Linked DNA regions of Homo sapiens. The protein of the gene in region 2 purifies or fractionates together with the protein of the main gene of each other region. This does not show direct contact. Each region holds a gene or a part of one and is shown on either strand. Other genes may lie near its edges.

Region 1 (3,600 bases), on a different chromosome or scaffold from region 2:
TTTCCATAAAATGAGAGTGAAATCAGAATTGGTGATTTCCAAGGGCTCTTCCACCCAGCCTGTTAATTCAGTGGCAGGAGGATTTCCCAGTTGATCTCCTGGGGCCAATCCCTTCCTGGGTCTTTTCAGAAAGAATCCTGCAGTTTCGTTGCAACCATTCTTGCCAGAAGTGAAATCTATCATCAGTATGAGAAATGTTCAAAGGGGTGAGTTACCCTTGGCCACTATGTCCACAGACCAGGTCAGGGGGTGCTTTGCTGGCCTTGAATGGGATACTTCAGGCCAAAGAGACTTTAGCCTAACAATTGAGGCAGAGACCAGTTTGGGTATTGGAGCTGCTGTCCATCAGTCTTCACTTTGTTCCCTTCGAGACATGCAGGTCTCCAGCCCAGTAAACCCACCAAAGGGTACAGGAAGCTCTGTTACAGATGAGGAGCTCTGGACCATGAAGAGCTTGTGAATCTCACCACCGCCACTACTCTGGACCCAGACCTGTGAGGTCCACCCACTGCCCAGGCAGTTGCCAACATCTGCCAGGAACGATTTCCACAAGGAAGGCTGAGTGCCTCTGAGCCCTGGGTGGGCAGCAATGTCAGTGGCACCATGGGGAGGTCATCCTCTCCCCATCTTGTGTTTGCTCATCATGGCCTCCCTGCCTGTGGGTCACAGGCCCAGCAGCAGCAGGCACAGAAGCCACAGGCGCTCCTAACACATTAACCGGCTGGACAGTGGATGGATGGAGCTTAATCTGAGATCTGGCCGCTTGGGACAGGGACATGAGGGGCAGGGCCCTGCCGCTGGCAGAGGAGCCTCCTCATTCCCCATGCTCTGCTTGCACTTGTCCTAGGACAGTCGCTAAGGGCCAGACTGGTGTCTACACATGCTTTTCTGTCATTCTGCTATGTGGTGCTGGCTTCTGCAGGGAGCTAGGCTGTGCAACTAACAGAACACAGCCTCTCAGCTATGGGAAATGGGATGGATGGGGGTGTGGGGAGGTTCTAGAGGGACAGGGCAAGTGAGAAGATGCAATGCAGGTCAGTCCTGTTCCTGAACCTTCCCTAAAGGTGGGCCTGAGCCAGCGCAGGCCCCTTAGACATCACCCGCCATGACCCCGCCAGACCGTCACCCACAGCCCCCAGCACACACCTGACCACAGCCCTCAGCCCCTACCCGACCAGACCCTGGGCCCCTAGTTTCCTCCAAACAATCCACACTCCCTGTACATCAAATAGAGCCAGCCCCAGCAGTGGGGCAGGAGGACCTCCAGCAGGAATGGCTCTATTTCTCCCCATCTCAAGATCAAGGCTGAGGCCCCTCAATTGCCTCCATCTCCTTTTCCATGGACTACATTAAAAGGGGTAGGCCTAGCACACCTTCAGACTAGCCAAAGGGGGTCATGCTCTGAGTATGTGTTGTCTCAAGAAAGCAGCACTTTCCACACCCATGCCATATATTTGGCTGGTGGAGAGCAAAGAGGAGCAGGCTCCCTCTGAAACTACAAAGCCAGCCTAGACTCCTGCCCAGGGAAATCAGGACAGAATCTCAGCTGTGAGGAAAGTGGGGCTTGGGTCTCAAAGCCCAGGAGAAGCCTCCCTTATTCTGTCCCCACCTCTGGTTGCCTACACTGGCCCCACCCCAGCTCAACTCAGGCCCAGCCCCCCACCAGTGGAGCACAGAGCTCGGTGCCCCTGGGTGACCCCGTGCTTGTTCTTGCCTTCCCCAGGGCTGAAGACCATCGTGGGGGCCCTGATCCAGTCTGTGAAGAAGCTGGCTGATGTGATGGTCCTCACAGTCTTCTGCCTCAGCGTCTTTGCCCTCATCGGCCTGCAGCTCTTCATGGGCAACCTAAGGCACAAGTGCGTGCGCAACTTCACAGCGCTCAACGGCACCAACGGCTCCGTGGAGGCCGACGGCTTGGTCTGGGAATCCCTGGACCTTTACCTCAGTGATCCAGGTGCGAACTTGCTCTGCAGCTGGGGAAGACTTTGTGAGACCAGCAGACCGGGGTCACCTCCCACACACGCGTCACCAGAGGGCAGGCCTCCAGGGCTGTTCAAGCCCTGCCTGATCCCCCAGAGACCCAGACAGAGGACAGACGGGTAGCAGACTTAGGGCCTGCCTTGTGACTTCCCAGGCTAGACGGAGAGGCAATGCTTGAGGAGTGGAAAGTATGGAGTTAGATAGAGGGCCAGTTGGCTGCGGCATTTGGAGATGGGACTGACCCTAGAGTGTTGCAATGGCAAGGTGACCAGCCTGCCCACAGAGTGTCAGCTTAGGAAAGGGGTGGACATGGAGCCAGCGTAGTTGATGAGGCTTCAGAGTGAAGCCCCACCTAGCTGGCATGGAGATTTCCCAGTTGCCGTCAGTGTTCCTTGCCAGGATGCTCGTTCCATATACGTGTACCCCAGAACCCTGCAAGAGGGTTGGAACAAGCCCAATGATTGTGCCAAGTTGTGTGAGCCCCTCTGTTGTTTCACTGCCCCGTGGCTCACACTTCCATTCTCCAGGCTGATGGCCAGCACCACTCTTGACTAGAGCCATTGGTCTGTTTCGGAGGTACATGCTGCTGCAAGGCCAGATTCCAGGCCACAGGACCCTGGGCCAGAATGACCCTGAGGGCCATTCTGAAGTTAGGGCCTCTTACATACACCAGCAGTCCACTTTGGAAAACAAAACATAGACACTCAATGAGTAGTTCAGCAGTGGCCTCATAACAGCAGTTCTAAAACTTCCATGTACACCCAAGTCACCTAGAAGGCTCTGGAAAACAGACTTCTGGGCCCCACCCCTAGAGTTTCCGAGTCAGTAGGTCTGGGTGGCAGTCAGGAAGTTGCATTTCTAAGCAGTTTCCACTTGATGCTGATGATGCTGGTTCGAGGACCATGCTTTGACAACTGTCGCCTAAGACAAAGCCAGGTAATGGTGAGTGTTGGGGACTGATGACTTGCCACAGAAAGGAGAGGACAAGACGGGCAGTCCTGTCTGGTGTAGCCCCATCCGGACAGACCACAGCGTTAGCATGGTGACTATTGCAGGCATCACTTCCAGCATTTTATGTGATGGAAGTGAGTACAGAGCTGGGCAGTAGCCGGCCAAGGCCCCACAGTGACTCGGCAGCCAAGCCGTAACTGCCCAGACCCTTGCCTCCTGGCCTTGGTGGGCCCCCTGAGTGGTTTCGGGTAGGGTGCAGAAGCTTCCTGTGGGGAGAGCTGAGGCCCTGCCCAGGGCTTCCCGTGTCTTCTGAGAGCATGGGGACACTGGCAGCAGGATGTCTTCAGAGGAACAGAAGGAAGGCCAGAGGCACAGCCAGAGTTGCCTGAAGCCTGGCCAGGCAGAGGGCAGGGGCAGGGGCAGGGAAGGGGCAGAGAAGAAGGAAGACCGCTAGTGAGGTCTCCACCTCCCCAGAGCCCTGGATGCAAGGCGGAAACTTTTGGGCCAGAGTGCCCCTCACCAGCATGATGTTTCTCTTACAGAAAATTACCTGCTCAAGAACGGCACCTCTGATGTGTTACTGTGTGGGAACAGCTCTGACGCTGGGTATGTGGCACCTACCACCCCGGGTCTCCTTGTCCTGCCAGGGGAGTCTCCTGGTGTTTTCTC
Region 2 (3,270 bases):
TTACTCACTTCCCTAGAGTCATCCAGGATAGGGGATAGTGAGAGACTGGGAGTACAGTGGAGAGAAGGAATCTTATTGCAAGACCCCTAAAAGTCTAGTTCTTTTTTTTTTTTTTAAATAGTGACAGGGTCTTGCTATGTTGGCCAGGCTGGTCTGGAACTCCTGACCTCAGGTGATCCACCCGCCTCGGCCTCCCAAAGTGTTGGGATTATAGGCATGAGCCACTGTGCTTGGCCCAGAGCCTAGTTCTTAGCCCTCAGCCCTCTTCCTTGTCCTCCCTTTGCTCCCAGGTCCTACATGGACTCAGAAGTTGTCCTCCCCCTCCCCCAAAAAGGATTTGTGCTTTCCATGAGCTCCTTTCTGCCCAGTGATGTGTCTTTTTATCTCTCTGTCTTTGTGCGCCTTTCTGGGTCTTTGTCTCCTTAGCCGCATTTCACAGCTGAGTGTCGCTTTAAGGAGTGTGTCTTTGAGAATTACTACGTCCTGTACGCCTCTGCTCTCTACCGCCAGCGTCGTTCTGGCCGGGCCTGGTACCTCGGCCTGGACAAGGAGGGCCAGGTCATGAAGGGAAACCGAGTTAAGAAGACCAAGGCAGCTGCCCACTTTCTGCCCAAGCTCCTGGAGGGTGGGTATAGACTCAAGAAAATGTGGGCCACAGGAGAGGGTATTGACCTTGATATGGACATTTAGGGGCAGACAGCTCAGGCTACAAGTGATAAGAGGACCCTTTGTGACAGATCAAGCCAGGAAGGCTTTGCCCTTTGGGGGTTTGGGTGCGGTCCTCCTGTGGGGTTGGGGTTCTTGGAGGGTGAATGTACGGGAAGGGAGCCCTTTTGGAGCACTGGTTCTGCCTGGGTCCCTCTGTGCCTAACTCTCCTTCCCTGCTCCTCTCTTTCTCCCCTTCACAGTGGCCATGTACCAGGAGCCTTCTCTCCACAGTGTCCCCGAGGCCTCCCCTTCCAGTCCCCCTGCCCCCTGAAATGTAGTCCCTGGACTGGAGGTTCCCTGCACTCCCAGTGAGCCAGCCACCACCACAACCTGTCTCCCAGTCCTGCTCTCACCCCTGCTGCCACACACATGCCCTGAGCAGCCAGGTCCCACTAGGTGCTCTACCCTGAGGGAGCCTAGGGGCTGACTGTGACTTCCGAGGCTGCTGAGACCCTTAGATCTTTGGGCCTAGGAGGGAGTCAGAGAGGGGGATGTCTGAAGATGGTCCTGGCTGATCACTTCTTTCTTTCCACACTCACACAACGCCATGCCTTTTCCTGAGATGGCGCTGGGAGTTCCCACATGGACAGCCAGGGCATAAACACTTCCCACCCCGGCTCAGCCAGTTCCTGGAGTCCTGTGCCCCTTTTCATTGCCACTGAGCCATTTCTAGATTCACTGGAGCTCAGGATTCATGTGTCCTTCTTTCCCTACTCTACCTTCTACCTTGGTCTGGACACATTCTGGAACACTGGACACCCTCGCCAGGGCCACTTCTGCACTAGGGCTCTGTGCTGGAACCCAGGCATGCTGCCAGCCTTTTCTCTGGATCTGTCAGGCCTCTGTCATTGACTCAGATGGACCCCTGGTTTCCAAGTAGAAAGAGGCTAGATTTGGGCCTTGTCTAGCTGTTGGCTTTGGCCTGAACCGGAACCAGTCTCAGATGACCACGGGTTTAACCTTCTTATCCCAGAGACACCCAATTCTAGAGCTTTATGGAGCCGTACTTCCCCCTGAATCCTAGCTCTAGGACATAGATCATGACTCTCAGCCCTTTTACCCAGGATGGAGCTGGGGCCTGTATAGCCATATTATTGTTCTAAGTAAGTTCTAGCCCCACCCTCCCGCCTTCTTGAGTGATACCTATTACGGATGAGTTCTGGAAAAGACCCAGCTATGATTCATAAAAACACTTCTGGATGAATCAAGAACCATTTCTTGTTTTTCCTAGATAATTCTCTAAAAATATGATTCTTCCATATAGAATGCTAAGCTTATTTTTACATGCAGTTTCTAGCTCCTTCAACCCAGCTGAGGTCGTGCCAGGGAGACAGAGTCTGGAGAAGGGCAGAGGAATTTTGGAAGGATCCCTGGCTCATAGTAGGGAAGCTGGGATGGGGGAGGGGTCAAAATTATGGCATGACTGAACCTGCATCTGTGTTGGGTGGACATGAATACTTAGCTACCTCAGCAGGAATTCCTTCCAGGTCCCCTTTAAAGCTGAGGTCCTTAGAGTAATATGTCCTTAATAAAAAGGACAAATGGATACAGCCTTGACCCTCCCAGTGAGGAGACCCCAATTCAGCAATAAGTCTCACCCTTCTCCCCTACAGGTCAGGCCAAGAAGGGTGAAGGCCTCTTGCACTCCAGACCTCATACGCCCCAACAGCTTCTAATTGGATAGAACTTGCTTTACCTTACAGCTCACAACCTCAGCTGGGTTTTAGGTACCCAAAAAGGGCCTGTCTAGATTTTTTCAGAAAAACGTGGAGTGCTAGGGGCAGCCTGGAAAAGATGGGGAACCTGCTAGTGAACTAGGAGGGAGACTTCCATAGCCTCAGACTTGGATAGGGTAGGCTGAGGGGGCCCTAAGGGAGGGACTAAGGCTCCAAGGCAGGTCACTTTTCCTTAGGCTGTTCTACTTCTGGCTTGTTGCAAGAGGAGTAGATGCCCCCTCACCCACACAAACCCCACTCAGTCTCCACCCAACTCCTGGCACTGCTCCCAGGGGATCGGGTCTCCACTCCAGCTTTCTCAATTAAAGACGATTTATACAACTGAAGTGCTGTCTGTCATCTGTCGGTGGCGGGCTTGGCAGTTGCTCGAGGCAGGATCAAGTCCCGGGGGCGGGGCGGGTGGGCTGGCGGCTGTCCTCCAGCAACAGGTGCACATTCCCGGGCTCCTCGTCACTTCCCCTGTGCTGGCGGTCCCAGCGGCTCTCTGAGCGAAGTCACTGAGCGAGCCGCCAGGCTATGACCCCAGGGGCTCTGCTGATGCTGCTGGGGGCGCTGGGGGCGCCGCTCGCCCCAGGTAAGTGTAGGCCCCGAAGGGGCAGTGACGGGGCCAGCGGTCGTGGCCAGGCACCAGGGCTGCACTTATTCTCTCCTCCCCCAGGCGTCCGCGGCTCGGAGGCGGAGGGTCGACTCCGGGAGAAACTTTTCTCTGGCTATGATAGCTCCGTGCGGCCAGCGCGGGAGGTGGGAGACCGTGTCAGGGTCAGCGTTGGTCTCATCCTGGCGCAACTCATCAGCCTGGTGAGGGCGCGCGGGGGGTGGAGGTCAG

What was found. The genes of interacting proteins can lie anywhere in the genome.
Region 1: the proteins of FGF11 (region 2) and SCN5A purify together in Homo sapiens (co-immunoprecipitation; 2 studies listed by BioGRID and IntAct, with this or other methods). This does not show direct contact.

What each region holds. Positions count from the first base shown.
Region 1 is NC_000003.12:38,608,088-38,611,687, reverse strand, and holds part of SCN5A (sodium channel protein type 5 subunit alpha), read left to right. Parts: intron 1-1,723; coding exon 1,724-1,954; intron 1,955-3,473; coding exon 3,474-3,537; intron 3,538-3,600. UniProt on the Homo sapiens protein: Pore-forming subunit of Nav1.5, a voltage-gated sodium (Nav) channel that directly mediates the depolarizing phase of action potentials in excitable membranes.
Region 2 is NC_000017.11:7,442,168-7,445,437, forward strand, and holds the end of FGF11 (fibroblast growth factor 11), read left to right. Parts: intron 1-426; coding exon 427-625; intron 626-908; coding exon 909-979; 3' UTR 980-2,770; downstream 2,771-3,270. Other genes in the region: CHRNB1 (acetylcholine receptor subunit beta precursor), read left to right, coding at 2,961-3,018, 3,103-3,242.